5 separate regions of the Homo sapiens genome follow, and all the other regions are linked to region 3. The links come from fine-mapping of genetic effects on gene expression. A gene starts in region 3. Each other region holds a variant in brackets. All regions are shown on one strand. Distances are from middle to middle.

The links. PIP is the estimated chance that this variant, and not a neighbour inherited with it, causes the effect. A credible set is the group of variants that fine-mapping cannot tell apart.
Region 1: its variant is the best candidate, but not a certain one, in a credible set for the expression of SMIM8 in T cells (TOPMed, PIP 0.63).
Region 2: its variant is the best candidate, but not a certain one, in a credible set for the expression of SMIM8 in macrophages after interferon gamma (Alasoo 2018, PIP 0.54).
Region 4: its variant is the best candidate, but not a certain one, in a credible set for the expression of SMIM8 in blood mononuclear cells (TOPMed, PIP 0.66).
Region 5: its variant is the best candidate, but not a certain one, in a credible set for the expression of SMIM8 in monocytes (Fairfax 2014, PIP 0.55).

Annotation. Positions count from the first base shown.
Region 1 is chr6:87,210,398-87,216,530 of GRCh38, forward strand. ZNF292 (zinc finger protein 292) reads left to right here. Exons shown (of 8, transcript NM_015021.3): 2 at 5,506-5,660; 3 at 5,902-5,980. Among named protein-coding and RNA genes, the nearest start is that of ZNF292, 58 kb to the left of the region's middle. RefSeq lists enhancers at 1-269, 1,230-1,983, 1,984-2,735, 2,779-3,978. The variant C/T (reference allele first, on the strand shown) is at 2,955.
Region 2 is chr6:87,342,310-87,348,442 of GRCh38, forward strand. C6orf163 (chromosome 6 open reading frame 163) reads left to right here and starts at 2,504. Exons shown (of 5, transcript NM_001010868.3): 1 at 2,504-2,938. The coding sequence starts at 2,791. SMIM8 (small integral membrane protein 8) reads left to right here. Exons shown (of 4, transcript NM_001042493.3): 4 at 1-20. The variant AT/A (reference allele first, on the strand shown) is at 3,631.
Region 3 is chr6:87,319,473-87,325,605 of GRCh38, forward strand. It overlaps SMIM8 (small integral membrane protein 8), which reads left to right and starts at 3,116. Exons shown (of 4, transcript NM_001042493.3): 1 at 3,116-3,160. It overlaps GJB7 (gap junction protein beta 7), which reads right to left. Exons shown (of 3, transcript NM_198568.3): 2 at 3,394-3,571. RefSeq lists a silencer at 2,938-3,227.
Region 4 is chr6:87,196,837-87,202,969 of GRCh38, forward strand. All of the region lies in intron 1 of ZNF292 (zinc finger protein 292), which reads left to right. Among named protein-coding and RNA genes, the nearest start is that of ZNF292, 44 kb to the left of the region's middle. The variant T/C (reference allele first, on the strand shown) is at 2,774.
Region 5 is chr6:87,233,561-87,239,693 of GRCh38, forward strand. The region is part of intron 5 of ZNF292 (zinc finger protein 292); the gene reads left to right. Among named protein-coding and RNA genes, the nearest start is that of ZNF292, 81 kb to the left of the region's middle. The variant T/TA (reference allele first, on the strand shown) is at 2,845.

The DNA.
Region 1 (6,133 bases), 110 kb before region 3:
AGAAACAGTGTGTTAGAGATCCTTTAACCTCTTACCTATTTCTTCTATCCTAGGCTTGCCCCAGAACACACACTATAGAGCAGATGCAGTAGCCACAAATAACTTTGTGGGGATCTAGTAGCTCCCTTAAAGAATGAGGTGAGGCAGGCTGAAGCGGGCGGATCACGAGGTCAAGAGATCAAGACCATCCTGGCTGACAAGGTGAAACGCCGTCTCTACTAAAAATACAAAAAGTAGCCAGGCTTGGTGGCGGGCGTCTGTAGTCCCAACTACACGGGAGGCTGAGGCAGGAGAATGGCGTGAACCCGGGAGGCGGAGCTTGCTGTGAGCCGAGATCATGCCACTGCATTCCAGCCTGGGGAACAGAACAAGACTCTGTCTCAAAAACAAACAAACAAACAAAGAATGAGGTGAGGCATGTAGCACCCACAGAGCCTGTGTCTGATCTCAGTGGGAGATCTTGGGTCATCACTCAGCCCTAGCTAGTTGCCATGCTGGGATGTGGGCCCAAAGTTGCCAATTTTTTTTGTTTTAAAAGAAAAGCCAGAAACCCAAGTTTTTATGTAAAATATATGACTTCTAAATATTAGAAACTAATTCAAATACTTTTTGAACAATGTGCACATCAAAACATCCATGAGCCACTAGTTTATGAACACACACATATACTCACTAGTGTAGTCCCTTCTGGTATGGTGGAGTGTGTCTTTAATATATGACTCCTTTCAGTATCCTCAACTCTGAATCATCTTGCTCCTCTTTGAATAACTTCAGTTCGTGGGCCACCACCTGTCTCAGGAGGCCAACTTGTTCTGTTTTTGGTTTACTCTAATGGTTTGGTAGTTCTGTCTTATAGGAAACAGGAAAGTGTCTCTTTTAAACTTCAACCTAGTGGTCCTGGTATGACCTGTGAGACACACAGAATAAAATTAACTCCTCTCTTATGTGACAAGCCTCTAGATTTGTGAATTTGGCTAATTTAATCTAAAATTTAATCCAAATTTTAAAAATTGGATTTACAAGTCAATTTTTATTTCTCCAGAAATGTATCACATAGTAGTTAAGAATGAACACTCTGAAGTCAGACTATGAGGATTTGAATCCCTTCTCTGCCTTTCCTAGCTCTGTGGTCTTATGGCTTTTTATTTCACTACTTTTGGTTAGTTAATTTTTAATATAAGCATATTACTATAATTTACCTAATTACTGAATAGGTAGTACATGTAAAGCTCTTAGAACAACGCCTAGCACATGGTAAATATTCAGTAAATATTATTTAGTATCCAGATAAAGCATCCCTAGTTCCATCAGTCATTCATCAAAAAACAGTTTTAAATTTTCTTACCATATTTTTCTTACAGGTTACTCATTAATGGAAGCAATATGGTGCATTGCAGGAAGACATTTAGGTTTTGTTCCTTGTCTTTTCCCCTCTATGCCATCTCCCCCCAACTCATCTTCAAACCAGATTACAGTGACATTTATCTTTGTCTGTTCATATGTGTATAAATATAAATATATGTGTATAGACATTCATTCATTCTTGAAGGGGTGTCGTAACAAAAACCATTGGTTTAATGGGGAAAAAAGTGTAGGACTTTGGTCAGATGCCAGTCGCAAGTACCAGGTCCCCAAGTCTGTCCAACTTGGCTACAATGTTAGGGGTTCTCACAACCCCCTCCTCAGGGTCAGTAATTTGCTAGAATAACTCACAGAACTCAGGAAAATGCTATACTTACTATTACAAGGTATTATAAAGGATACAAATGAACAGCCAGATGAAGAAGTACCTAGGGTGAGATCTGAAAGGGTTCCAAGCACCAGAGCCTGTCTCTGTGGAGTTGGGATGTGCCACCTTCCCAGCACATGGATGTGTTTTCCAACTCAGAAGCTCTTAGACTACTGTTGTTTAGGAGGTCTTGTGGAGTACATAGCCATGATTGATCAGATCATTGGCCATTGGTGATTGGGTTCAATCTCTGCCCCTTTACCTCCTGCAAGACTGGGGGGTGGGGCTACAAGTTCCATCTCTCTAATCATGGCATGGTCTTTGTAGTGACCAGTCCCTGTCTTAAAGCTATCTAGAAGCTCCTCAGCCTAATGTTATCTCATTAACATGAAAAAGACACTTACGTAGATTTCAAGGGTTTTAGGAGCTTTGTGCTAAGAACCTAGGACAAAGACCAGTTATTTTTTATTATACCATACTTGTATGCCTGCCAGTGGCACAAACTGAATTCAAAGACTGGTCATGAATCTTAACATCCCTTTTGATTGAATGGTTGCATCATTGAATTCCAAATTTTCTTGTATAATCTTTCCTAGTTCATGTTGGTTCAACCAGGAACTAATCCCAGGTTTTAATTGCTCTAATCAAAATCACCATGCAAGAGAATGTTTTCATTTCTAGCAGTCCATAGTTCTCTGTCATTGTCCTCTGAATCATCTAGCTGGTCAAAAGATTGGAGAGTATAACCATTTCAGATCCATAAGAAATATAAGTTCTTCTTTATTTGAGGGCTGTTTAGAAGAAAGTTAAGAATTCTTCTGTGTAGGGGTCAAAAGAAAACTTCCCTTCATCCTCTGAAGGTTCACTGAAAATCACCTGACAAACAGCAGATTAATAGGAGAAATGGCATACAGATTTATTAATGAAAGGGAGGTGGGGAAATGTGGGTGATTTTAGAGGAGGGTTGTAAATTATTTTTAGGGGAATTCAATGGACTTGAACATACAGTGGCCTGGGACAAAGTCTATTGAGCCTGCTAAGCATTCAGTGGTTTGTGACAAAAGTCTGGCTAGGTGTGTTGACAGACTTCCGTCTTCCTGCCCTATGAGTTCAGTTAATGAAAACTCAGGGAGGGGACTGTTAGAAATGCTTATTCCCGGTGCCACAAAGAAATAGCACTCAAACATAAATTTAATTTTCACAGAAAGGCAATTTTTACTTTCTG[C/T]GGAAAGGGTGCTCCTTGCAGATGGAACAATGGTGAGACCACACCCGGACAGGGGAGGGGAAGGAGTTCTTGTTCCTGACGCAGGTATCCCCTACTGCTGTGTCATTCCTGTATTGGCTAGGGTTGGCCCGCACAGTCTAAGCTAATTCCAACTGGCTATTTTAAAAAGAGCAGGGGGTATGAGCCAGAGTGGTAGGGTGAGTAGTTTGGCGGGAAGGATGGTTAGAAACAGGTAACTAAAGGTGACTTAGGTCAGAGCAGGTGACCAGGGGTGACTCAGGTAAAGCAGGTGACCGGGATGAGTCAGGATGGACCAGGTGACCAGGGAACAGATGTGAACTACTGATTAGGACTGGTGGGAAAGTTGTTTACTGAAACTTAGAAGCAAGGGGGTGAAGAGAACCAGGAAGCTAAACTTTAAAATGGAGAATCAAAGAATAAGAGAGCTGAACATACTGACATACTGATTCTTTGAAGAGAAACTTGGGGTTCACTATATTTAACAGGATCAAAGGTAATTTTCTTCTTCTTTGGTGGGCCTGGACTTTAGACAGATAAGGAAACTTCACAGAACAACTTCATACTGTGTTTTGCGAGAAAGAGGATCAAGAGATGGGAAGAAACAGGGGAAGGTCGGAGAGACTCTGAGGCTGCTTCTTCAGCATGTCAAAGTGCCACAGTTTGGGGTATCAGTTTCTGAGCCCCAGCACCTGCAAAAGTGAGTCTCTGGATTGGGATTATATGTATAATAGTGACATGATTAGGCAAATAAAAGGCTTTAATTTCTGTGTTTACATCGAAGCTGAATAATCTTGGATATAATGTAGGCAGCTTGGGTATAATGTAGGCAGCTTCATCTCATGACCAGCTACAATGTCATTTGTTCATCATTACATTTAACAATGCCAAGAGGGTACAGAAACATGGATTCCCCTCTTCCCCAGCATCTCTGTCCCTGCTTGGAACTTAAAAGATCAGGAATAGCTTTACCTTTGGGTTTCATGTGGATTGAGCTAAGGAACTTATCTCTGGTTGTTTTTATCCTCACGTAGAATCTATTTTGTACCATGAAGGTTTGGGATATAATGGGATTGTGAGGTGAGGTGCAAGTGTGGATGAGAGCAAATTTGTTTCAGGGTTCATCTGGGAAAGATTGCAGTGTTTTTTCCTGGATATCTGAGAAACACGTTTTTCCACTTCAACTTTACTGAGAAATTTTGCTGTGGAGTTGGTTTTGGACCTAGTTGAGTATCCCCCGACACCCCATCCTACATCCTGCACTGTGGCTGCAGGTTTTCTGTCCTTTCTGTCTCTAGCAATCAGTATTTGCCCTCACTTCTTAGGGGGAAAGGAAAGGAAAGGATTAGTTGAGAGCCAAGGTCTGTGAATATATGGCTACTCAGTCGGTGAGTAGTTATTTTGTTGCCCTTTAGTTTACCAGCTTACTTTTTCTATTGCTTTCGTCTAATCACTTACTAATTCTGTTAGTTGGAAGTTAGTAGAGAGGTCAAGGTAGTAAGTGCTTTGGTAGTAGAATACAATCCCCCCCACCCCTTCCCTCCCTCCAGTTTTTAAAAGTGCTTCTGTATGCCAGAGGATACAGGCCCTCAGGAAATTTTTTTTTCCTTCAATACCCTATTTTCTAGGAAAAGAAACCTGAATTTCCATATGTTTGATTAAATGAGTCTTAAACCCTGAAGTGTGGAGAGGACCAATTGTGGCAGTCTTCTGTGTTATAAAAACATTTAATTAGAATCTCTCTTCATTTAGCATAACTATAGAACCTTTTAGGTAAGAGTCTTAACATGTGTGTTTCTGTATAACTTATCTTTCCATTATCTCCCATCTCTTATTCAGTAAGATAAATAGCATCTTTTAAAGTAATTCTGATGAGGTAAATTTAAAATATTCACTTAATTGAAAGATGAGAAATATTTTTAATTAAAAAAACACTATTACAAAAATTACTTAACCTTATAATAATTCTTTAATATCTTTAATGTTGATTTTTATATGTTGAAAGTCTTTGGATGACTTTTTAATTGCTAGTGCTTGTCAAAAAATTATTAATTTGTATGTACTGTTATTTTTTTATGGACTGAAAAAGGACACGTCTTTGCTGACCATACATGATTTATTTTGTTGTTCAATATTGAATTTTCTGCTGCTTCTACGAGAAATAGAAAACAGATATTATTTCAAATTCTTCACTGCATGCCTGGTCAACTGTTACTTGCTCAGATGTCTTTTTAAAATAACTTTTAAAACTTACTAGGGAATAGAGGAGATAACTCTTGCCCTATTTAAAACTAGCCTTGATGAAATTATGCTGTTGCTGGATGAATTAATACTAATCTTTTCTCCTACAGAGAGCTGCCAAAAATATGACTATGACTTTATTTCATTTAATATTTTAATCAATATAAACTACTTTTTGTTTTTATAAATAAAAATCTGTATTTTTCAAAATTTTTCAGGAAAAAACAGCTGATGAGTCAATGTATATTTTGATTTACATTTTGAATACTTTTTATTATTCCTTCCAAAACAGACACTCCTAGAATATGCAGAGAAATGGAAAACTTCAGAAGATCCTTTACCTTTATTGGAGGTATACACAGTGGCTATCCAAAGTTATGTTAAAGCCCGACCTTATCTTACCTCTGAATGTGAAAATGTAGCCTTGGTTCTGGAACGCTTGGCATTGTGAGTAGACCTTTGAGTAAATAAACTAGATTTAGCTTTAAAAATACATAGACACACACACACACACACACACACACACACACACACACACACACACACAACATTAAATCTCAAGTCTTATAGTTTAATTTTAAATAGATTAGTTATGGGGAGTCTGCTTATGATACTAGAATTACTGGTTTTATAATTTCCTTTGAATTTTAATAATTATTCCTCTCCTTACCAACTTTTTGTTTTTTAGAAGCTGTGTTGAACTTTTACTGTGTCTGCCTGTTGAGTTATCAGATAAACAGTGGGAACAATTTCAGACACTGGTGCAGGTGAGAATCTTTATCTTTAGATTTAATACAGGTATATCTTATGTCAGTTTTCCTTACTCTTAAAAAAATTATTCAGTTAAACTTTAAGACATCTCAATAATGACAGACATTAATTACTGATCTTATTGACACTAGTATCTTACATAGAGTAGA
Region 2 (6,133 bases), 23 kb after region 3:
TACCTTTCAAATAGTCCAAAGATTCTGAACATTGAACTTCACCTGATCCAATCCTGTCAGTTTATGGTTAAGACAATAGGCTGAGAATGGCTAAGAGATTTACCAAAGATCAGGGAGATTCTCAGTCAGGAGTAGAACCTGTATCTTCTTGCTCTAAAGTCTAGGGATCTTTTCACCATACTATACCACCTTCTATGTGTAAATGTGCACATAATAATAAAGCAGCCACATTAGCCCTTAAAAATAAGAAGTTTAGATCTTAAGTAGAGAAACACTCCTGTACTTTAAAACAGAATTATGTAAAGGACTGTTAACTGCCAGCTCCCTCACAAGACCATCAGAACAACCTGATGATCAAACAAAACTAAGCTTATTAAATCTACTGCACTAAAGGGAAATACCACTTTTACAAAGTTAGCTGTATTTAAGAATGGGATGGTCAGGGGAAGATATTAAAGTCTTTTGGAAGTCTGAGTTCAAGTGATTAAAGAAGGGTCTTTCAATGCAGGAATCTGGTTGAGAATGGGCAAGGTACCTGACAGAACAGATTAGATCTTGAAGCAAGTCTTGATTAGTAAACTATTGTTCAATAAATGTTAAGTGAACTCTTTGCCCAGGGGAGTAGTCTAATCTTCTGATGGAAGAGCTGTTTGCCTAGATCAGCAAGCTGTCCAATTGATAAATTGTTTTTCAAGGATTTCCTAAGGCAAACACTGAAAGTATTTATTGGTTTTACAGCCTTATCTTCCATAGGAGGCCCAACTCTTCCAATTTGCCAGACACTAAGGAAGTTCAGGACTTTCAGTTTTAAAACAGGGACAGTCCCAGGCAAATCAAGGCCAGTTAGTTATCCTTCCATCTGGGCAAGAATTTCTAGTAACAGATAGGAAAGTTATTGGCACAAGTAGCCTCAGTTCTCAATCCAGATAATTAACTGTGTGGATGCAGTAATCCTCATTCTTCATACTAATTCATCTCTTTGTTTTTAATTCCTCTCCAAGTCCCAGTTAACCCTTTTCTTGAAGTCAAATCTGGCACAATTTGATAGTTACTTAAGGTCTTCAGCCAGTTATCAGGCCGTATGTGTTAATATAAATTATAGAGTAACTTGTGGTACACTTAGCTCAGGGCCCTATGGGAGTCCTGTTGTTGAAATTAATTTCACTGATGGCACTCACTTATTATAAAATAGTCCTGCCAAGTAGATGCAGCATATGACATTGTCAGGCAATTTTATAAATTCAGTTACTTGGTACAATCAGTTGCACAGATTTTTGCGATAGGTGGAATTTCTATGGCTGTTTATCTAAAATTATAGGAACAAATTAGTTAACCATGTGATTTTTAAAACCAGGCTTAGTAATTTTGAATGCTGCCTTAATGAAAGTAATTTCTTCTTCAAGATACCATGATATTTCCCAGTTTTATTACCATGGCACCAACACATCATGTTTATTAAAAACCTAAAAGAAATTAAGCTACCTCCATTGCTGGCCTTAAAAGAAATTAATTCTTTAAAAACTAATTTAAAACAAAGTGTGGTAGGCTGACTAATGCTCTCCTTCCCTGCAAAAATGTCCAGATCCTAATCTCTGGAACCTGTAAATATGGGACTTTACGGATATGGGTAAGTTTAGGATTTTGAGATGGGGAGATTATCCTGGATTATCTAGATGGGGCTGGTATAATCACCAAGGTCTTTAAAGCACGGCAGAAGATCAGAGGAAGAGACAATGTCACTATGGAAGCACTGGGGGAAAAGGCTATATGATGCAAGGCCATGACCCCAAGGAATATGGATGGCCTTTAGAAGCTGGAAAAGGCAAGCAAACACATTCTCCTCTGAAGCCTGCAGAAGGAACCAGCCCTTCTAACAACTTGATTTTAGCCCCTAAGACTCATTTTAGACTTCTGATCTCCAGAAATGCAAGAGGATAAATTTGTGTTACATTTAAACTATGAAGTTTGTGTAGTTTGTCACAGTGGTGCTATGGTTTGAATATTTGTCCCCTGCAAAACTCATGTTGAACTTTAATCCCCAACGTGGTAGTATTGAGAAGTGGGGCCTTTAAGGGGTGAGTGAATTCATTCATGGGTTAAGGGATTGATGGATTATCATGGGAGGAGAACTGGTGGTTTTATAAGAAGAGGAAGAGAGGCCTGAGCTAGCATGTGAGCTCAGCCCCTGGCCATGTCATACCCTATACCACCTCAGGAATCTTCAGTGAGTTCCCACCACCAAGAAGATTCTTACCTGATGCAACTCCTCCACCTTGGACTTCTCAGCCTCCATAAACTGTAAGAAATAATTTCATTTTCTTTATAAGCTATCCAGTTTCAGGTATTCTATTATAAGCAACAGAAAACAGAGTAAGACAGCAGCAATAGGAAACTAATATAGAAAGTATCAGGAAAATGAATGGCTGTATCATGCTCCCTTTTGTCATTATTTGAAGTTGCTTTTATGAGCAAAGCTTGTCTTACCTAGCAACAGTTGCCAAGTAAGTTAACAACTTAATGCTAGAGTCTGGGAAGGAGCAACTACTTAAATCTTCCCAAATCTGGTGCCCATACCTTCTATGGCAGGGGCTTTTAGCACCATTCTTTAACGTTAGACACATAACCACAGCCTAATCACTTGAACCATTTAATCCTTACCAGCCTCTAGCATTATCCTAAAACCCTGAACCTCTTCCAGCTTTCTTAAACTTTCAGCTTTTCTTGAAACGACTTTTTCTGATTCTAAGATTATTTTAACTGTAAGTAGGAGAAGACATCTGAAATTTAACTATGATCAGAAATTCAGATTACAAAAACTTTGTTTGCTGTGCTGTTTGTAATAAAATAATTCCACCAGCCCCTTTTGGAAAAACCTTCAAACGGATCCATGAATACAAGCCACTTAAGACACGCTTTTACACTCACAAAGACATACTAGGTAAGTGACTTTATCGTTTTCCTTTGTTCTAATGCTTCATAGCCTTATGTGTCATTCTTTCTGTTACATAGACTTTTATCAGCTTTTTTCTCTTCAGAGTTGCTTGTCCCTACAGGGATATTTGAGGAGAATATGGGTTGGAATACAGCTTCTCCACTTACAGTTGTATGTATTGGGCAGGGTATTTAGCCTCTCAATCTGTTTCCTTATGTGGAAATAAATATACTAATACCTATCTTACAGGTTGTTATGAGACTTTAATGAAGTATTTGTATCTATTATAAATCCTGGCACATAATAGTAAATGTGAGTTCATTTTGCCCTTGGCCATACTTGAGCACCTTTCAGTATGTGTAGGAGAGGAAATATTATCTCTAAATAACACCCTAATTGGATGGGCACAGTGGCTCACACCTGTAATCCCAGCACTTTGGGTGGTCGAGGTGGGCAGATCACTTGAGGCCAAGAGTTCAAGACCAGCCTGGCCAACATGGCGAAACCCCGTCTCTACTAAAAAAATTTAAGCAGGCATGGTGGCATGCGCCTGTAATCCCAGCTACTCGGGAGGCTGAGGTAAGAAAATTGCTTGAACCCAGGAGGTGGAGGTTGCAGTGAGCTGAGATCGTGCTACTGCACTCTAGCCTGGGTGACAGAGCGAGACTCTGCCTCAAAAAAAAAAAAAAAAAAAAAAA[AT/A]TTTAAAGTACCCTAATAAATGGGTAAAAGAAACTATATAACCTTTAAATAGTAGCTGGTAGCATAAAAGTAGATACATATAGATAACATGAGGACGTTTACTGTACATACGTATGTATATATAATAAGCAAATCAAATTGTACTATAGGTTTCCATCTCTCTTTTATCCCCGTAAGAGTTTTCAGTCTGACCTTGAGCCTTGTAGGTATTTTCCTAAGAACTCTCACAATACTTCTCTGATCCTCTCTTCCTTTAAAATGGTAAACTAAGGGTGATTTCATTTCACTCCTGATATTTGAAAATATAAGAAGCTGGAGAGCAGAGGTGTTTGGAAAAAAAAACTAAAATGTAGGGGGAGATCAAATTGGAATCATCTTCTAAAAACATCAATTCCAAAATTGTTTCTTAGCATTTAGTAAGTGCTTAGTATGAATGATTCATTATGATCTCTAAAGTGACTTTTCATACCCAGGACAGTGTATCTCCATTCTTAGATATACCTTAATGATTGATTCCTTATGCCTTATGGAATATCTAACCCAAACCTTAAGTGGATAAGTTAAATCTATTGTTAGAAATTAATCTTTTCTATTCAGTGACCTTTGTCATTGAACTGTTTTAAGTTAAAAAAGAAAGAAAGTTGAAATTGTCTGTTCTTTATAAGCATTTTGAAATGTCCGTAGAAGAGCTAGTGAGTATTTCATAGGACGATAGTTCTCAATCCTGGCAGTGCACTATATAGAACTTTGAAAAAAAATATTAATACAGATATCCAAACACAGACCCACTGGATTTAATACTAATCTAACACAGAGCCACTAAATTAGGACCTCTACGGTCAGGACTAAGCATGTGTATTTTTTCCTTCACGTTTAAATAACCTTTTTTATTTCAAGATAGTTTAAGACTCACAAGTTGCAAAATAGATCAGAGTTCCCCTGTACCCTTCATCCAGCTTCCATTGATATCTTACATAATCCTGGCACTTTGTCAAAGCTGGAACACTGGCATTGAAACAATACTATTAACTCAGGTACAGACCTTATGTACACTTTTTTCCCCCGGCATAGAGTTTTATGAAATTTATCATGTGTGTATATTAATGTGCCATCACCACAATCACAACATGGAGCTGTTCCATCACCACAAAGGAACTCCCTCGTGTTACCCCTTAGCTGTCACTCTCTTCTCCCCAAACTTGAACCCCTGACAACCACTAATCTGTTCTCTATCACTATAATTTTATCACTGAGAATGCTATCTAAAGAATCATAGATTATGTAACCCATTGAGATTGGCTTTCTTCACTCAGCACAATGCCCTTGAGATTCATCCAAGTTGTTTATCAATAGTTTGTTCCTTTTACAGTATGTGCATTTTTAAAAAAAGCTTTGCAGGGATCCTGTTGTACAATCAGGGTTGAGAACAACTAATAAAACCAATGGGATTTAAACATAAAAGAGGATAGTGATAGCCTACACTTGTATCACATTTTTATGAAGTTCAATACGTTGATGGTCCATGCTTAGTCACATTTTGTCCTAGAAAATCTTTTCTAATTATTTCTACACAATGTTGGGCTTTTGCAGTATGTGTCCATCTCCACCGTAATATATGCTGCCCTGTGTTTTTAAGATTCGCTGATGAACTAGTAGGAGACTCTGTGCCGCCAAACATATACTTTTAATTGCTAGTGACAGAAACATAACTCAGAATAGACTGCATGAAATGGAATTTCTTGACTCTTTTAACAGAGAAACCCAAGGGAAATCTGGCATCAAGGCTTTCAATCTGTCCATGCTTACCCTTTTAGTGAGTTGGCTTAATGGTTTACTGCTGCAGCTAGACTTACTCCGGCAGCTGGGAAAGGAGGAATGTGGATCCAGATAGCTCTAAGAATCTATTACCTTCAGCTTAGAAATCCCAGAGGAAGACCAGGCATGGTGGCTCACGCCTGTAATCCTAGCACTTTGGGAGGCCGAAGTGGGCAGATCACTTGAGGTCAAGAGTTCGAGACCAGCCTGACCAACATGGTGAAAGCCCGTTTCTACTAAAAATACAAAAATTAGTCAGGCATGGTGGTGGGCGCCTGTAATTCCAGCTACTCGGGAGGCTGAGGCAGGAGAATCACTTGAAACGGGAGGCGGAGGTTGCAGTGAGCCGAAATGGCGACACTGCACTGCAGGCTGGGCTACAAAGCAAGACTCCCTCTCAAAAAAAAAGAGAAATCCCAGTGGAAAAAGACCTGGCTGTCTGATATTGCGTGGTCCTCTAGCCTCTCTAGACTTTTATTACCTTGTCTGGGTAGAGAGGATATTATTATGGGAATGTTATTATTTGGAAATCAAATTAGATCATTGACAGAAAAATAGTAAACTTCTACCCCTTAGCTCACTCCATACTGAAGCAGTTAAACCCACAAAGAACCACATGCTAAAGAAAGGCATGTAATGTGAAGGCATTCCACTTCCCTTCTCCTGATGCTAGCCCTAGCACCCAAA
Region 3 (6,133 bases):
TTACAGATCACTGAGAACCCTAAGGGATAAGAAAAAAGTTTGGGTCTGCTTAGGATGCAACATAATAATATTTTATAGCCTTCCAATTGTTTTTAGCTACTGCAGTAACAGCTTTTTAATTGAAATTTAACTTATTTTGTCAGAAGATTGCCTTGTAATACCAGTTGTCAATGAACTTTTAAAAATTAAACCTCAAGCCAGGTATATACCTAAAAGAAAGGAAATCAACACATCAAAAAGATATCTGCTCTCCCATGTTTACTGCAGCACTATTCACAATAACCCAATTTAGATGCAATCTAAGTGTCCATCGACAGATAAATGGATAAAGAAAATGTGGTACATATACACAACAGAGTACTATTCAGCCATAAAAAACAATTTGCAACCACATAGATGGAACCGGAGGACATTATTTTCAGTGAAATAAGCCAGGCACAGGAAGACAAACTTTGCATGTTCTCACTTATTTGTGGGAGATACAAATTAAAACAAAAGAACTCATGAAAATAGAGTAGAATGATGGTTACCAGAGGCTGGGAAGGGTAGTGGGGATGGGGGGAGTGGGAAATGGGGATTTTTAGCGGGTACAAAAGTATAGTCAGATAAAATGAATAAGATCTAGTATTTGATAGCACAACACGGTGACTACAGTCAGCAATAGTTGATTGTACATTTAAAAATAACTAAGGGTATAATTGGAATGTTTGTAACATAAATGATAAATCCTCGATGTGGTGGATACCCCATTTACCCTGATGTGATTATTATTCATTGTATGCTTGTACCAAAATATCTCATGTACCCCATAAATACATACACATAAATATTAAAAATTTTTAAAAATTAAACCTCAAATCAAATGTGAAGTTAATTTGGCTTGGGAGAAAAAGTTTTAAATTCGAAACATATTTACCAAAGCTTTACATAAACCCATGCCAAAATATTGGTACCTTCTATTCCAACTATTCTGTTCATTTTAATATAACTTGTGTAAACCAGAAAGTCTATGAGATAGGTCTCAATCAATTTAGAGGTTTATTTCACCAATGTTAAGGACCATGGCCTGTGACACAGCCTCAGGCAGTCCTGAGAACATGTGCCCAAGGTGGTCGGGCTACAGCTTGATTTTATACATTTTAGAGAAATGGAAGTTACAGGCAAAGACATGTATCAATACATGTAAGGTATACATTGGTTTGGCCCATCTCAAAGCAGCGTGGGGGTGGGCTTCCAGGTCAAAGATGAATTCAAAGATTTTTCACATTTTCAATTAGTTGAAAGAGTTAAGCTCTGCCTGAAGATGTGAAGCCAGCTGGAGTTAAGGTAAGCGGGGGTGTTGTGGCAGCCAAGGTTCTCCTTATGTAGATAAAGCCTCCGGGTAGCTGGCTTCAAAGAATAGATGTGAATGTCTCTTATCAGACCTTAAAAGATGTCAGACTCTCTGGAAAAGACCTAGTAAGGGGCCAGGCACAGTGGCTCACGCCTGTAATCCCAGCACTTTGGGAGGCCGAGGTGGGTGGATTGCCTGAGGTCAGGAGTTCGAGACCAGCCTGACCAATATGGTGAAACTCTGTCTCTATTAAAAATGCAAAAATTAGCTAGGCTTGGTGGCATACACCTGTAGTCCCAGCTACTCGGGAGGATGAGGCAGGAGAATTGCTTGAACCCAGGAGGTGGAGGTTGCAGTGAGCCGAGATCATGCCACTGCACTCCAGCCTGGGTGACAGAGTGACACTCCGACACTCCATCTCAAAAAAAAAAAAAAAAAAGATCTAGTAAGGGAAAGAGATTTTCTATAGAATGTAAGTTTTCCCCAACAAGAGACAGCTTTGCGAGGCCATTTCAAAATAGTCAAATAAATATATTTTGGGGTAACATATTTTTATTTCTTTCAGGTCCCACTATGTGTCACGTGATGTTATTCCAGAGTCAGGTTGGAATTTTCTTATTGCTACAGTATATTTTACCAGTCTTACGATCTCCGTTTTAATGTTAATGCTGGTCAGTTGTGTCTAACCTCCAACGGGAGGAAGGTATAATGAGGCATATCCAACCGCCCACCCCTTCCCATCAGGGCCTGAACTCATTTTTCAGGGTTTTTTTGAGATTACCTTGGCCAAGACAGAGGTCCATTCCTTTCAGGGGTGGGTTGGTGATGGTGGTGCTTAGAATTTTATTTTTGGTTTTTGTATTAGTCTCTTCTCACACTGCTAGAAAGAACCACCTGAGGCTGGGTAACTTATAAAGAAAAGAGGTTTCATTAGCTCACAGTTCCACAGGCTGTACAGGAGGTATGGCTCCAGAGGCCTCAGGAAACTTACAATCATGGTGGAAGAGGAAACAAGCACGTCTTACCGTGGTGCAGGAGAGAGAGAGAAAGAGAGAGAGTGTGAAGGGGGAAGTGCTACACTCTTATAAACAAACATCTTCTGAGAACTCCATCATGGGAATGGCAAGGGGGAAGTCGGCCCCATGATTCAGTGACCTCTCACCAGGCCCCTCCTTCAACACAAGGGGGCTATTATTCCATATGAGATTTGGGTGGGGACACAGAGCCAAACCACATCAGTTTTCACGTGTATCCCAACAAACTTAAACATCAGCAAAGTATGTGCAAACCAGCATCCCTATATCTATTCTTGTCTCAACTGCACCTGCATACATCCTGCATCTTGGACTCTCAAGGCCCTAACGTAATGGCAGAGTATTAACTCTACACTTAAATGACTGTTCCCCTAAAGTAGGGGTAGGAAGAAATCAGATCTAGCTTTCTTTCCCAAATCAGAATGCTTTCCACTTTCATGAAATAAACATACTTCTAGGAGATGTCTCCTTTTATTTATACAAACATACACACCGAACTGGAACGTAATTTGAAGTTGGGAGGTGGAAAACTAAAGGTCAAAAAGGGAAGAAAGCAAAAACGTCCCTTGCACACTTCAGCCCGCAGACCCCAAGGAGGGGCGCGAGGTCCTCAGAACCGGAAAGGCTAGCACTGGATGGGTCCCCGCAGCCCCGCGCCGCTGCGCCGCAGCCTCCGGAAGACAGGGGACGCTGTGGCGCCGGGCGGGGCGCCCTCCGCCGCTCTCTCTAGCAGGCGGGGCGGCGAAGCGGGGCGGGGCGTCTCGGGCGAGGAGAGGAGGTGACCCCGCGAAAGGTAAGCGGCGGCTTCGGTGGTGTTGAGTGGCTGGGCGCCGGCCTGGAGGGGCCAGGGCGGCCGCACCATCACGCTCCCGTCTCTGCCCTTCCCAGCTGCCCTGCCGGTCTCCCTCCCAGGGAGGGAGCGTCCTCTCGGATAGCCCAAATCTTTGCCTCTCCGTGGACTCCCTGTACCCGCACCCCAAGTCGGTGAAGCTCTCTGGCCCCACAGAGCCCATTTCCCGTACTCACCTTGCGGGCTCCAGTTTGTTCGGTGCTTCATCCATGGACACCCCCACCCCGAGAACTCTCTCGTTTCCTGCAGTTTCTTAGTGTCTTGGCTCACCAGACTCATAGGGGAACATGGTGGTGTTTTGAGGAGACGCCGCTTTTCTTTTGTCATAGTGCGGACACTCGTGCTTTTTCAGCCCTGCAACACAATGTGTAGAACTTAACGGAATGAAGTTTTCTTTTGGAGGCTTCCAATGCGTCTGTCTTTGAGTAAGCCTTCGGCACCGAACAGTAGTCCATGACATTGGGGGAAGCCAGATGAGACTCAGATTGTCAGTACTCAGGCTGTCGCCAGCAAAGCCTTTCCCCTTTTTTCAGAGACAGTACTACATCCAAGAGGTGGAAAGATACTTTTGTTTTGTTTTGTTTATTTATTTATTTGTTATTATTATAAGTTTTAGGGTACATGTGCACAATGTGCAGGTTAGTTACATATGTATACATGTGCCATGCTGGTGCGATGCACCCACCAACTGGACATCTAACATTAGGTATATCTCCCAATGCTATCCCTCCCCCCTCCCCCCACCCCACAACAGACCTCAGAGTGTGATGTTCCCCTTCCTGTGTCCATGTGTTCCCATTGTTCAATTCCCACCTATGAGTGAGAATATGTGATGTTTGCTTTTTTGTTCTTGCGATAGTTTACTGAGAATGATGATTTCCAATTTCATCCATGTCCCTACAAAGGACATGAACTCATCATTTTTTATGGCTGCATAGTATTACATGGTGTATATGTGCCACATTTTCTTAATCCAGTCTATCATTGTTGGACATTTGGGTTGGTTCCAGGTCTTTGCTATTGTGAATAATGCCGCAATAAACATACGTGTGCTTGTGTCTTTACAGCAGCATGATTTATAGTCCTTTGGGTATATACCCAGTAATGGGATGGCTGGGTCAAATGGTATTTCTAGTTCTAGATCCCTGAGGAATCGCCACACTGACTTCCACAATGGTTGTACTGGTTTACAGGCCACCAACAGTGTAAAAGTGTTCCTGTTTCTCCACAGCCTCTCCAGCACCTGTTGTTTCCTGACTTTTTAATGATTGCCATTCTAACTGCTGTGAGATGGTATCTCATTGTGGTTTTGATTTGCATTTCTCTGATGGCCAGTGATGGTGAGCATTTTTTCATGTGTGTTTTGGCTGCATAAATGTCTTCTTTTGAGAAGTGTCTGTTCATGTCCTTCGCCCACTTTTTGATGGGGTTCTTTGTTTTTGTCTTGTAAATTTGCTTGAGTTGATTGTAGATTCTGGATATTAGCCCTTTGTCAGATGAATAGGTTGTGAAAATTTTCTCCCATTTTGTAGGTTGCCTGTTCACTCTGATGGTAGTTTCTTTTGCTGTGCAGAAGCTCTTTAATTAGATCCTATTTGTCAATTTTGGCTTTGGTTGCTATTGCTTTTGGTGTTTTAGACATGAAGTCCTTGCCCATGCCTATGTCCTGAATGGTAATGCTTAGGTTTTCTTCTAGGGTTTTTATGGTTTTAGGTCTAACGTTTAAGTCTTTAATCCATCTTGAATTGATTTTTGTATAAGGTGTAAGGAAGGGATCCAGTTTCAGCTTTCTACATATGGCTAGCCAGTTTTCCCAGCACCATTTATTAAATAGGGAATCCTTTCCCCATTGCTTGTTTTTCTCAGGTTTGTCAAAGATCAGATAGTTGTAGATATGTGGCGTTATTTCTGAGGGCTCTGTTCTATTCCATTGATCTATATCTCTGTTTTGGTACCAGTACCATGCTGTTTTGGTTACTGTAGCCTTGTAGTATACTTTGAAGTCAGGTAGTGTGATACCTCCAGCTTTGTTCTTTTGGCTTAGGATTGACTTGGCGATGTGGGCTCTTTTTTGGTTCCATATGAACTTTAAAGTAGCTTTTTCCAATTCTATGAAGAAAGACATTGGTAGCTTGATGGGGATGGCATTGAATCTGTAAATTACCTTGGGCAGTATGGCCATTTTCACAATGTTGATTCTTCCTACGCATGAGCATGGAATGTTCATCCATTTGTTTGTATCCTCTTTTATTTCCTTGAGCAGTGGTTTGTAGTTCTCCTTGAAGAGGTCCTTCACATCCCTTGTAAGTTGGATTCCTAGGTATTTTATTCTCTTTGAAGCAATTGTGAATGGGAGTTCACTCATGATTTGGCTCTCTGTTTGTTGCTGGTGTATAAGAATGCTTGTGATTTTTGTACATTGATTTTGTATCCTGAGACTTTGCTGAAGTTGCTTATCAGCTTAAGGAGATGTTGGGCTGAGACAATGGGGTTTTCTAGGTATACAGTCATGTCATCTGCAAACACGGACAATTTGACTTCCTCTTTTCCTAATTGAATACCCTTTATTTCCTTCTCCTGCCTAATTGCCCTGGCCAGAACTTCCAACACTATGTTGAATAGGAGTGGTGAGAGAGGGCATCCCTGTCTTGTGCCAGTTTTCAAAGGGAATGCTTCCAGTTTTTGCCCATTCAGTATGATATTGGCTGTGGGTTTGTCATAGATAGCTCTTATTATTTTGAGATACGTCCCATCAATACCTAATTTATTGAGAGTTTTTAGCATGAAGGGTTATTGAATTTTGTCAAAGGCCTGTCTGCATCTATTGAGATAATCATGTGGTTTTTGTCTTTGGTTCTGTTTATATGCTGGATTACATTTATTGATTTGCATATATTGAACCAGCCTTGCATCCCA
Region 4 (6,133 bases), 120 kb before region 3:
CAGAAAGCATAAAAAGACGGACATATTTCATAATATAAAAATGAATTTTTATGGTAAAAATAACAAAGCCAACAGGGAAAACAATAGATCCAGAAAATTATTTCTAAAACTGTTGATGAACAAAAGGTAAATTTCTGTAATATATTAAATTCTTGCAGTGTGACAAGAAAAGAGACCATCAGTGTGATAGAGCAACAGACAAAACAAATCCAAATGTCCAACAAATGAGAAAGGAGGTCAGATTCATTATTAGTTAAAGAAGTGCAAATTAGAGAAACTGTAGAATTTAATAGGCTGTATATGACTTCTTGCTAGAGGTAATACAGAGAAAGGCACTCTCAAACTTTGGTGGACATGAGAAAACAACCTTTTGGGAAAGCAATGTGGCCAGTAAAATAAACCTGGCCAGTAAATGTGTTAGTAAAATAGCATATCTGTTTGCTATATTCTAGCAGTTGCTCTTCTGGAAATCTATCCCATAGCAGAAAATTTAGTATTTCATTTAATTGCAGTAGGTTAGGTAGTACCATAAATGTTTTTGAAACCTGAGTACAATTTGAGAATATCAGATTTTTAACATTTGGGTTTTTTTTTTTTTTTTTAAAGCATTAAGTAAGGCTGGGCACAGTAGCTCACACCTGTAATCCCAGCACTTTGGGAGGCCAAGGCGGGTGGATTACCTGAGGTCGGGAGTTCGAGACCAGTCTGGCCAACAGGGTGAAACTCCGTCTCTACTAAAAATAAAAAAAAATTAGCTGAGCCTGGTGGCAGATGCCTGTAAGCCTAGCTGCTTGGGAGGCTGAGGCAGGAGAATTGCTTGAACCCCAGAGGCGGAGGTCATGCCACTGCACTCCAGCCTGAGCAACAGAGTGAGACTCGCTGTTTCAAAAAAAAAAAAAAAAAAAAAAAGCATTCATTAGAGCCTGAGTTAGTTTCAATTTTTTATCTAAGAAGTATCTGTTTTAGTTGAAAGAAGTACATTCATTTCTAGCTTTCAACAGTAGGTGTTTTCAGTCTTTGATTCTGGGTTATGAAGTTGCTACAGTTAAAGGGATTTTCAGATCATTTCTATTTTAAGAATATTTATGTATCTTAAGAACAGGTCTCTCTGAAATGTAGTTAATTTTTCCTGAAGATAAAAGTAATATGATTTGAATCATTGCTGTTTTAAGCAATGTTTAATAGATACTGATTGGTATTTTCTTTTTCATCAGTTTCAAATTGATTCTATAAATTTGATAAGTTGGAGAGAAAATTCAGATAGCTAGAGATCTGTGTAACAGATGACACCAATTAGCTTAAAATTTAAATCCTGACATAACCAAGTCACCATTGCATGTTTATTTTATTTATTTATTTATTTATTTATTTATTTATTTATTTTTTGAGATGGAGTCTCGATCTGTCACCCAGGCTGGAGTGCAGTGGCGTGACCTCAGCTCACTGCAACCTCCGCCTCCCGGGTTCACACCATTCTCCTGCCTTAGCCTCCCGAGTAGCTGGGACTACAGGCGTCCGCCACCACACCTGGCTAATTTTTTGTATTTTTAGTAGAGACAGGGTTTCACTGTGTTAGCTAGGATAGTCTTGATCTCCTCACCTCGTGATCCGCCCGCCTGGGCCTCCCAAAGTGCTGGGATTACAGGCCTGAGGAGCCACGCCCGGCCCATTGCATGTTTATGTGTTCCATGTTAGTCATTTTAGAAAATATTAACATTAGAACTGCTTTGTAGTTGGGAAATGGATGAGACTTAAAATAGGTTTTATAAGATACGAAGTACTTAAATATATTAGACTTGGGGAAGTTATTCTCTGTGAACTTTGCAATCTTTATCTGAAACTGAGCCAGATGTGAATCAGAATTCAGAAATGTTCTTCGTTCAAAAAAGAATATGGTGCATATATTGTATTACACAATAACTTCAAAGGGTCCTTGGGTTGCGTCTCATAAACACAGCAGAATACATGAATATTCTTACTAAATGGGATAAAAGCTATCAAATATTTCATTCCTTTTTATTGTTGAAAAATATTCAGCCATATGGATTTATTACATTTTGCTTATCCATTCAAACCATTGATGGACATTTGGCTTGTTCCTAGTTTTAGGCAGTTATAAATAGTGTTGCTGTGAACAGTCATATACTTTTCTTTTGGCCAACAAGCTTATATTCGTTTTGGGTGGATTGCTAGGAGTTGAATTGCTGGTTTGAATAGTAAATTTATGTTTAACTTTTTAAGAAACTGACTATCCAAAGTGACTGTGCCATTTTACATTCTCCTTAGCAATGCATGAGAGTTACAGTTTCTCTGTATACTCACCAACACTTGATATTGTCTTTTTAAAATTATAGCCATTCTAGTGGATGTGGTTTCTCATAGTTAAATTCGTATTTCCCTAATGGCTAATAATATTGAAAATCTTTTCATGTGCATTTTCAGCCATTTATCTTCTTTGGTGAACTGTCCATTTAAATCTTTTGCCCATTTTAAAAAACCAGGTTGTCTTTTTATTAGAGTTGTAGTAGTTCTTTATGTATTCTGGATATGAGCCCTTTGTTAGATGTATCATTTATAAACATTTTTTTCTCAGCCTATGGCTTGGCTTTTCATTTTTTAATGGGGTCTTTTGAAGTGCAGAAATTTTTTATTTTGATGAATTGAAGTCCAATTTATGAACTTTATAAAAATAGATCATGTTTGGTGTTCGAAGAACTCTTCAAGAAGTTTTATAGGTTTAGTTCTTCATTTAAGTATGGTCCATTTTGGGTTT[T/C]GTGTATGATGCAAGGTAAGCATCTCATTTCATTTTTATGCATGTAGATATTCAGTTGTCTCAGTACCATTTCCTGCGCTGAGAATGGATCACATGCCCTCTGGTTCAGCCTATATTAACATTTGTTTCTAGGAAAATGTTTTTAATTTCTTTTTCATCAAAAAGTCACTTATACAATGAGTATAAATGACTAAGGGAAAACCTATTTCTGTTTAATTTTATTTCTATTCAGAGCAGTTACTAGAGAATATAGAAATTAAAGGAATCAATCACCTTTAAAGCTGGGTTTCCTACCATTGTATTTCATGTTCTGAAGTAAGGATGTATTGTGTGTGCCAACTGGCCCATGATAGACATACACAGTAGACTGTGGCAGCCTTTCTGGCTTATCCCCAGCAAGTTGAGATTGAGGCTCGTGCTATAATTATTTATGGCAGCTAGACTCTGCTTCTTTGAATCTAATTATGTACATCCTGGGCTTGTAGGTCTCTGAAGTTACTAGGGGTTATATTCTGTATAAGGGGGTTTACTCTTAAGAATTTTGGACCTCCCACATGATATTTAGCTATATGTTGGGCTAAAGTCTTCACTTCAGATTTGAGCCATGTATTTACCTTCATTATGACTGCTTGACTATGGGAGTCACAATGTAAAGGTACAGATCAAACAGACATACTGTGTTAGTGTTTTTGGAAAGTAAGTTCAAAGCCAGAAATACTGTGGAGACTAAGCTGAAGTCAGAATTGTCCTTTTCAGAGTGTTTTATACGGAGAAACAGTTACATAGCATTATGAGAATTAATTCAGTGGATGAAACCTAAAAACATTCCCTTTCTATGTTATGTACTAGACATTTAAAAAAAAAATCTCTGCTCCCATTAAAGTCAGGTTTCTTAGCAATTAGGTTAGCATCAAACATGCTCGTGTTTTTCCAAGATTGAAACCCTTTGTGCCAAGGCATCAATGTGGTTGCTTCTGTAAGCCTAGTTTATAGCAAAGAATATGCAAGAACAGAGAAATTATGGGCCACACCATGTCAGGCTAGGGAATAGGGAGGTTTTGGGATTATGATTGGTTCGTGCCATCAGAATGCTACAAAGAGAGTAGGCCCTGGAGCCAGAAGTTTTAGAATTCTCAGAAAGTCTGGAGATTGTGTTATAGCATCCATATTGGAGATTATTTAGGGATTCAAAGCTATCAGAAACTCAGTTTTGTGAATGGTTATTTCACATCCTAGCATTGAGTATATATGGGAATGTGAATCATGTTAAATTCATAATTGATTTTCTTTGAAAATGCTAAACTGCTACTGAAATAACTACTGCACTGGGCCGTTTGCCAGGGATGGTAGCCTGAGATATGGGGAAACAAGTGTCTCAACCAGAACAATGTGGAAATAAGATTATTGGATTTCATCACAAGTAAGAGATTCTCCTGAATTCTCACAATTTGGGAGAGAGATGATATAAAGGCAACATACTCAGAAGTAAAAATGGTGGTGGACCAATCTCAACCCTGAGATTCCGAGGTAGACTTATATTTATATTATGAATTTTGTATTATGCATATGGCACTATGTATTATTTGCGAATATGAGATACAAAATGTCTTCCCAGTTTGTAGCCTTTTATTTGATTTTCTATGGGGTTTTGTTGAACAGAAGTTTTTAATTCTATTGTATCTGCAGTTATTATTATCTTCCATTATGATGTGTATTTTCTGTCTTAAGAAAACCTTCTTTGCCCTAAGGTCTTAAGATGTTCTCCTATGTTTTCATCCTAAAGTTTGTTGTTGTTGTTTTATTTTTTTCTTTGTAACGGAGTTTTGCTCTTGTTGCCCAGGCTGGAGTGCAATGGCATGATCTCGGCTCACCGCAACCTCCGCCTCCCGGGTTCAAGCGATTCTCCTGCCTCAGCTTCCCGAGTGGCTGGGATTACAGGCATGCACCACCACACCCAGCTAGTTTTTGTATTTTAGTAGAGACGAGGTTTCTCCATGTTGGTCAGGCTGGTCTTGAACCCCCGACCTCAAGTGATCCGCCCACCTCAGCCTCCCAAAGTACTAGGGTTACAGGCATGAGCCACCACACCCAGCCTCATCCTAAAGTTTTAAAGTATTGCTTTTCACATTCAGTTACTTGTCCATATAGGATATAGTTTTGTTATATGCTGGGAATAGTTATAATTTTTCTTTCCTGTTTAAATGGTTGTTTCAGGTTATTTATGGAATAGTCTGTACTTTCCTCACTGGTTTCTGATGGGGCTTTTTTATATACCATGCTCTCACATATATGTAATTCTGTTTTAAAGCTCTTTCATTTCTGTCATCTATGTCTATAACAAAATCACACTGTCTTAATTTCTATAGCTTTGGGATAAGTCTTGCTATCTGATTAGGGCAGATAATCTTCCAAATTCAAAAACCTGGCTCTTCAAAATTGATTTGGCCTTTTGAATGATTTTTAGAATCAACATGTCAAATTCTGTAAATAATCCTATGGAGAATTTCATTGGCATTGCTTTGACTTTTTAAATATGGCTCATATTGTCATCTTTAACTTGTCTTCCACTATCTATGTATGTGGTATTTCCATTTATGCACCCTTCCTTTTATTCTTTAAATAAAGTTTTATACTTTTTTTTGAAAAGATCTTATAAATACTTTGTTAGATTCATTCCTAGGTACTTCACGAGTTTTGTTACTGTGAATGTTATCTTTTTAAAAATTATAGTTTCTAACTGCTTTTTTAAAAAAATAGAATTGCAGTTGATTTTGTGTATGGATCTTATATCTAACTACTATACTGAATTCTCTTGAAGTTCTTACGTGTGCATTGTCTGCAATGGTGACATTTTTATTTTATCTTTCTGGTTCTTACTGCTTTTATTTCTTTTTCAGATTGTGCTGATTAGCCCTACAGTTTTGAATAGAAGCAGTGATAGGCATTTTTGTTTTGTTTTCTGACTTTAAAGGGAAATGCTTCTAACATTTCATACTCCCAGAATGTAGTTTGCTATGGGTTTTTCTGGATACCCTCTATCACATTAAAGAGCTTTCCTTCTGTTCCTTGTCGTAAAGAGATACTGATTCTTCTTTACCTCAAGTTGCATTTTGATTACAATATTTCCCCTTCCCCCCGCCCCATCCATGATTTTGTTTTCTGTGGTTTTAGTTACCCTGGTACAAAAGTATTACATACAGTAAGGGGGGAGAGAAAGAGACCACATTCACATAACTTTCATTAATACAGAATATTGTTAATTGTTCTATTTTATTATTTTTGTTAATCTCTTACTGTGCCTAATTTACAAATTAAACTATCTTAGGTATATGTATATATAGGGATAAAATAGTATATGTA
Region 5 (6,133 bases), 86 kb before region 3:
TTAAGTTGAGAAATTAATTTTTAATTAGAATGTCTTTGATTTCCTTTTCTCTTAGATAGCGAAGAGATCATTGTCAATCTTACATTTTTGGTATGTTCTTGAGTGGTGGCAACTTGATTCTAAGTAGCTTTTAGAATTATATGTAAACTGATTGCACCTAGTTTCTGTTTTAAATAATATACATCTTTTAAATGCTTTGGCTAAATTGTGGGAAAGATAGTGGTGGCTTAACAGTTTAGTAAAATATCTATATTTGTCAGCTTTTGGCCTTAACTTCAATCTTGTCTGACTTCAAGATACTTGCACATCTTTTAAACTGGCTAATTTAAGTAACTTTATAGAATTTTTGTGACTTATCTCTGGAAATACTTTGTCATATAAATTCTATATAGAATATATATATGCACATCTATGCTATATATCATTTTGAGTACGTATTTATTTGCCTATTTAATGTAAAACCTTATTTTCTCTCTGAGACATTGTCTTTTCACTTCTAGTTTGGTATAAAGCATAGTATTCACATATTTGTATAGTTTATGACTACAAAATTCTGAGAATGGAATCATGATCCAAATGGGAATTTTGCAATTTTGCATTTTGAGGGACTTACAATTTCAAAAGGAAGTTGGAAACAGGGTAGGAGAATTAGAAGTTGTTGATCAAGAAACAGGGCGTGTATATTTAAAGAATTTAGATAAAACTATACTAGATTGGCTGGGTGCCTGTGGCTCACGCCTGTAATCCCAGCACTTTGGGAGGCCGAGGCGGGCGGATCACGAGGTCAGGAGTTTGAGACCAGCCTGGCCAACGTAGTGAAACTCCTCTCTCTACTAAAAATACCAAAAATTAGCTGGGCATGGTGGCGGGCACCTGTAATCCCAGCTACTTGGTAGGCTGAGGCAGGAGAATCGTTTGAACCTGGGAGGTGGGGGTTGCAGTGAGCCAAGATCATGCCACTGCACTCCAGCCTGGGTGACAGTGTGAGACTCTGTCGCAAAAAAAAAAAAAAATTTTTTTTAAAGAAAACCTATAGTAGGTTGATCAGTGTTCAGTGGGCACTGAATGTGTACGGGTGTCTTATATCTGTAATAACATATCCTTTGACTCCAGAGCAATAGAGAGGAAAACAAAGGGATTGTAGGTAAAACATAAGGATATGTTAAGGGAAAAATTGAGATATAAGACAGAGAAGTAAACTAATAGAGCATGCATGATCCTCTTAGGTATTGTCATCAGTCTCAAAGCAGAATAGCCTCATACAGAAAGCTCAGTGCCACATGAGGTTTGTAATGATGATTGTGTGATTTTTTTTTTCCTTGAGAATAGACAAGTAGGAAGGCAAGTGGTAGGCTTGGACCAAGATAAGAAATAAACCTGTTGGGTTTCTTATGTGAGGATATTGAGGATAGTGGGAAGAGTAATGTCAGACAGTTTGTAGGCTAGATGGAGTGGAACCATGGTCTGTAGCCTAGGATACTATATCACTATTAGTTTGGACTTCAACTAGTCTATAGATTTTTTTCTTTATTATTTATTTTATTACAGGTAATTGGCCTTTTAATTGCTATTATATATGAGAGCAAAATAGAAGACTGACATTTTCTTATTAGTTCCAAATAACTAGATAAGTTAATTTGCAGATGTATAAAATTTATTGAAATCACCTTTGACGTGTTGTAACATTTTTAAAAAAATCATTAGTTATTGTGCTGCTGCTTCTCAGATATTTTTCAGTGCCACGAAAGCTTTTATTATCAGTTCAGTCCCTGCCCTTAAGGTTCATCTGACCTCCCTTCCCCTTCCACAGATTTGTATTAAGTGAATGATTTTTTCTGTATAAGCATTGGGGGGGATTGGGGGAGGTGGGATTTAAAGGTGAATAAGGGGTAGGCCCTTCACTAAAGAAGCGTATCTCCTGTTAGGAAACTGACTATCTAAGCATAGAGTTGTTGGGTTAGCTTTGAAGTTGAAGACTGTGAATCTGTGTCTCAAGTAAAAATCTAGTAAAAAAAAAAAAATCTGTATTTCTAGCTCTCTGAATAATCCAGTCTTGCAATACTGAGCCTAAGTTCCTTCTTGGTTTAATTATCCAGAGTTGAGTAACAACAGTCCAGCCTACTCTGGGAGATGATCAGGAAAATTCTGTGAAGACCCTGGGTACTTCCAGTGTCATATGGAACTATTTCCCTCCCCCCCACTTCTCATGTTAAGCAGGTAGAATTAAGACTTTTCATGTTCATAAGCAGGGTTCACTAAGGTTTATATACTCCATCCCAGGAAAAAAACTAGATCATATAGTGCAGAACAGGACAGATAGATGTTAAGTCTACACTTACATAGCACTACACATATATAGTAACATTACTTTGTTAAAAGTCCCTTGTTACAAAGTAACAACATTACTTTGTTAAAAGTCCTTTTTTGCTTAGAGATGATTGCTCTTTAATGTTTCTGTTATAAACACATTAGAAACTTATTCATTGTTCCATATGAGGTGAGTTAAGATTTATTGTCCCCAACCCAGAGACATTGCCCCCTTTAGAAGAGGTGTGCACCATGTGCTCTCTCACTTGCCCACCCTACTCTTTGTCCACTTCATTAATGTACGTTACTTGCCTGTTTCTTACAAGTATTTGAGGTTTGGTTTTGTTTACGTGTTCCTTAAAGGACAGTGGGAACAGACTTTGTTAGAAGGAGTCAGCAATGGCCTGGATTGGTGGTGATCTTTCTGAGGAAATCTTTGTCCAAGTGAGGCAAGGGATTGACTGTTTCCCAGGACCCTTTCGGTGTGATAGAAATAGCAGCTAGTTGATACCCCATAGGTTGTTTTTTTTTTTTTTT[T/TA]AAAAAAGAAAAGAAATAGCAGCTAGCCTTGGTAGATGGCAGAGGAATGGGGCTGGGAGAGATTAAGTGTTTATCTGGCCTTTCTGGAAGGAATGAACTTTGGTCTGGATTCTTGGTATAGTAGTAAAAAATTAAGTTAGCAGTGTCTAGTTTAGATCCAATATTTCTATTTGTTTTATCATTAAAATATAGAAGTTTAAAAACTAAAACTTTCTATCTTGTATCTCTGTAGCTGTCTCATTTCCCTAATTAATACTCCACTAGGTAATTATTATTAAGATTAAAATTTGATATATAATCTTTCTGACATTCTTCTATGCACATACATGCATTTTTAATACTTAAAATCGCATACACACTCCCTGGTTGCCGGTCCCTTTTCCCTCTATTATTGTGGACATGTTTCCATATCATTTCATATAGATCAACCTTATTCTTTCTCATGGCTACATAATTCCATAGTATGCATTTGTAATATCTTTAACCAGATTGGTAGACACTTACTTATATTGTTGCCTTTTACATACATCCGTGTATCCTTGTGGGGAGTATACTGGTAGGGTAAATTTCTGGAAGTGAAATTGCTGGATCAAAGAATCAACACATTTTAAATTGATAGGTTCAAACTATCCTCCAGAAAAGATTATGGCAATTTATGTTTCCAAAAACAGTGTGAAATATCTTCTTAGAGATTATTAGTCTTAAATATTTGCTAGCCCAAGAGTTAATTTTGATTAACTCTTGATTTTATATTTTCTTAGTTATGACAGGTTTAACATTTATTTTCTATATGGAAAGCAATATTATTTTGATAAGCAAATCAATTTTTTAAACTGTTTGTTTGTTTGTTTTTTTGGAGACAGAGTAAGCTTGCTCTGTTGCCCAGGCTGGAGTGCAGTGGTGTGATCTCAGCTCATGGTACCTCTGCCTCCGGGGTTCAATTAATTTTGCCTCAGCCTCCCAAGTAGCTGGGACTACAGGTGCACGCCGCCATGCCTGGCTAATTTTTTGTATTTTAGTTGAGACAGGGTTTCACTGTGTTGCTCAGGCTGGTCTCAAGCTCCTGAGCTCAGACAATCCTCCTGTCTTGGCCTCCCAAAGTGCTAGGATTACACACGTGAGCCACCGCACCCAACTGAAACTGTTTTTGAAATGTGATTACAGCCAATACTTTTTAAAAGTATACTTCGTAAATTCATATAAAATATTGATAGTGTTCTATATTTTTTGAATAGTTGGCATAAAGAGCCATTTTAAAACATACAAATTATTATTTACATCTTTGAAATAATTGTTATGCTTTACAAAGGGACTTTATTCAGCATAATGTGTCTTTAGCAAACAGATCATTCTAATTGGTTTTAAATATTTTATTAAGAGTTCTAAATTTTCTGGTATTTAAATTTTTGCTCATTTGTCAGAGCAATAGAGAATAGTCCCTATATAGGTAATATACTGGTAATCTCTGAATTTTGCTTCTTTGGATTTTTAAATCTTGTTCATTGGTGGCTATGTTTCACTTTTCATGATTTTAATTAGTAATTTACTACTTTGTATATGACTTCCTTATTCCTGCATTCTATTTAATGTCATATTTTTTCAAGACAGCCATCTAGTGGCAAATAAGAGAAATGAAGGATCCCAAGTACACCATGAAAATTGTTTCATTAGTATGCCTATGAGAAATGAAGTTTGCTGTGTTACTGAATGTAGCAGATGTTTCAGTTGGTATGTTGCATGTATATGAAAAAATACACATAGGCAATCACAAATTTATATTTTTAAATATTAAGAGTAAGCTGGGCGGGTGCAGTGGCTCACACCTTAATTCCAGCACTTTGGGACACCAAAGTGGGTGTATCACCTGAGGTCAGGAGTTTGAGACCAGCCTGGGCAACATGGTGAAACCCCGTCTCTACGAAAATATAAAAATTAGCCAGTCGTGGTGGCACTAGCCTGTAATCCCAGCTACTCAGGAGGCTGAGGCATGAGAATCGCTTCATCCTGGGAGGTGGAGGTTGCGGTGAGTCGAGATCGCACCATTGCACTCCAGCCTGGGTGATTGAGCGAGTCTCCATCTCAAAAAAAAAAAAAAAGTAAGCTAATGATAGTAATAACATTGGGGAAGTAAATTTCTTGCCTTATACATAATAGATAAATTTGGTACCATATGAGCACTCAGCAAGAGTGCCTTAGGTTTTATTTTTTTGGTTTTTTTTTTTCAGTAAGTATTTATTTTTTTTATTTTTTTATTTTTTTATTTCTTTTTGGTTTTGATTTATATATTTTTTTTTTAATTGATCATTCTTGGGTGTTTCTCGCAGAGGGGCATTTGGCAGGGTCATAGGACAATAGTGGAGGGAAGGTCAGCAGATAAACAAGTGAACAAAGGTCTCTGGTTTTCCTAGGCAGAGGACCCTGGGGCCTTCCGCAGTGTTTGTGTCCCTGGATACTTGAGATTAGGGAGTGGTGATGACTCTTAACGAGCATGCTGCCTTCAAGCATCTGTTTAACAAAGCACATCTTGCACCGCCCTTAATCCATTTAACCCTGAGTGGACACAGCACATGTTTCAGAGAGCACCAGGTTGGGGGTAAGGTCATAGATCAACAGCATCCCAAGGCAGAAGAATTTTTCTTAGTACGGAACAAAATAGAGTCTCCTATGTCTACTTCTTTCTACACAGACACAGCAACAATCTGATTTCTCTATCTTTTCCCCACATTTCCCCCTTTTCTATTCGACAAAACCGCCATCGTCATCATGGCCCGTTCTCAATGAGCTGTTGGGTACACCTCCCAGACGGGGTGGCGGCCGGGCAGAGGGGCTCCTCAATTCCCAGAAGGGGCGGCCGGGCAAAGGCACCCCTCACCTCCCGGACGGGGCGCCAGCTGGGCAGAGGCGCCCCCCCACCTCCTGGACGGGGCGGCTGGCCAGGCGGGGGCTGCCCCCCACCTCCCTCCCTGACGGGGCGGCTGGCGGGCCGGGGGCTGGCCCCCACCTCCCTCCCAGACGGGGTGGCTGGCCGGGCGGGGGCTGCCCCCCACCTACCTCCCGGATGGGGCGGCTGGCCGGGCGGGGGCTGCCCCCCACCTCCCTCCCTGATGGGGCGGCTGGCCGGGCGGGGGCTGCCCCCCACCTCCCGGACAGGGCGGCTGCCGGGCGGAGACGCTCCTCACTTCCCAGACGGGGCGGCTGCTGGACGGAGGGGCTCCTCACTTCTCAGACGGGGCGGCTGCCGGGCGGAGGGGCTCCTCACTTCTCAGACGGGGCGGCTGCCGGGCGGAGG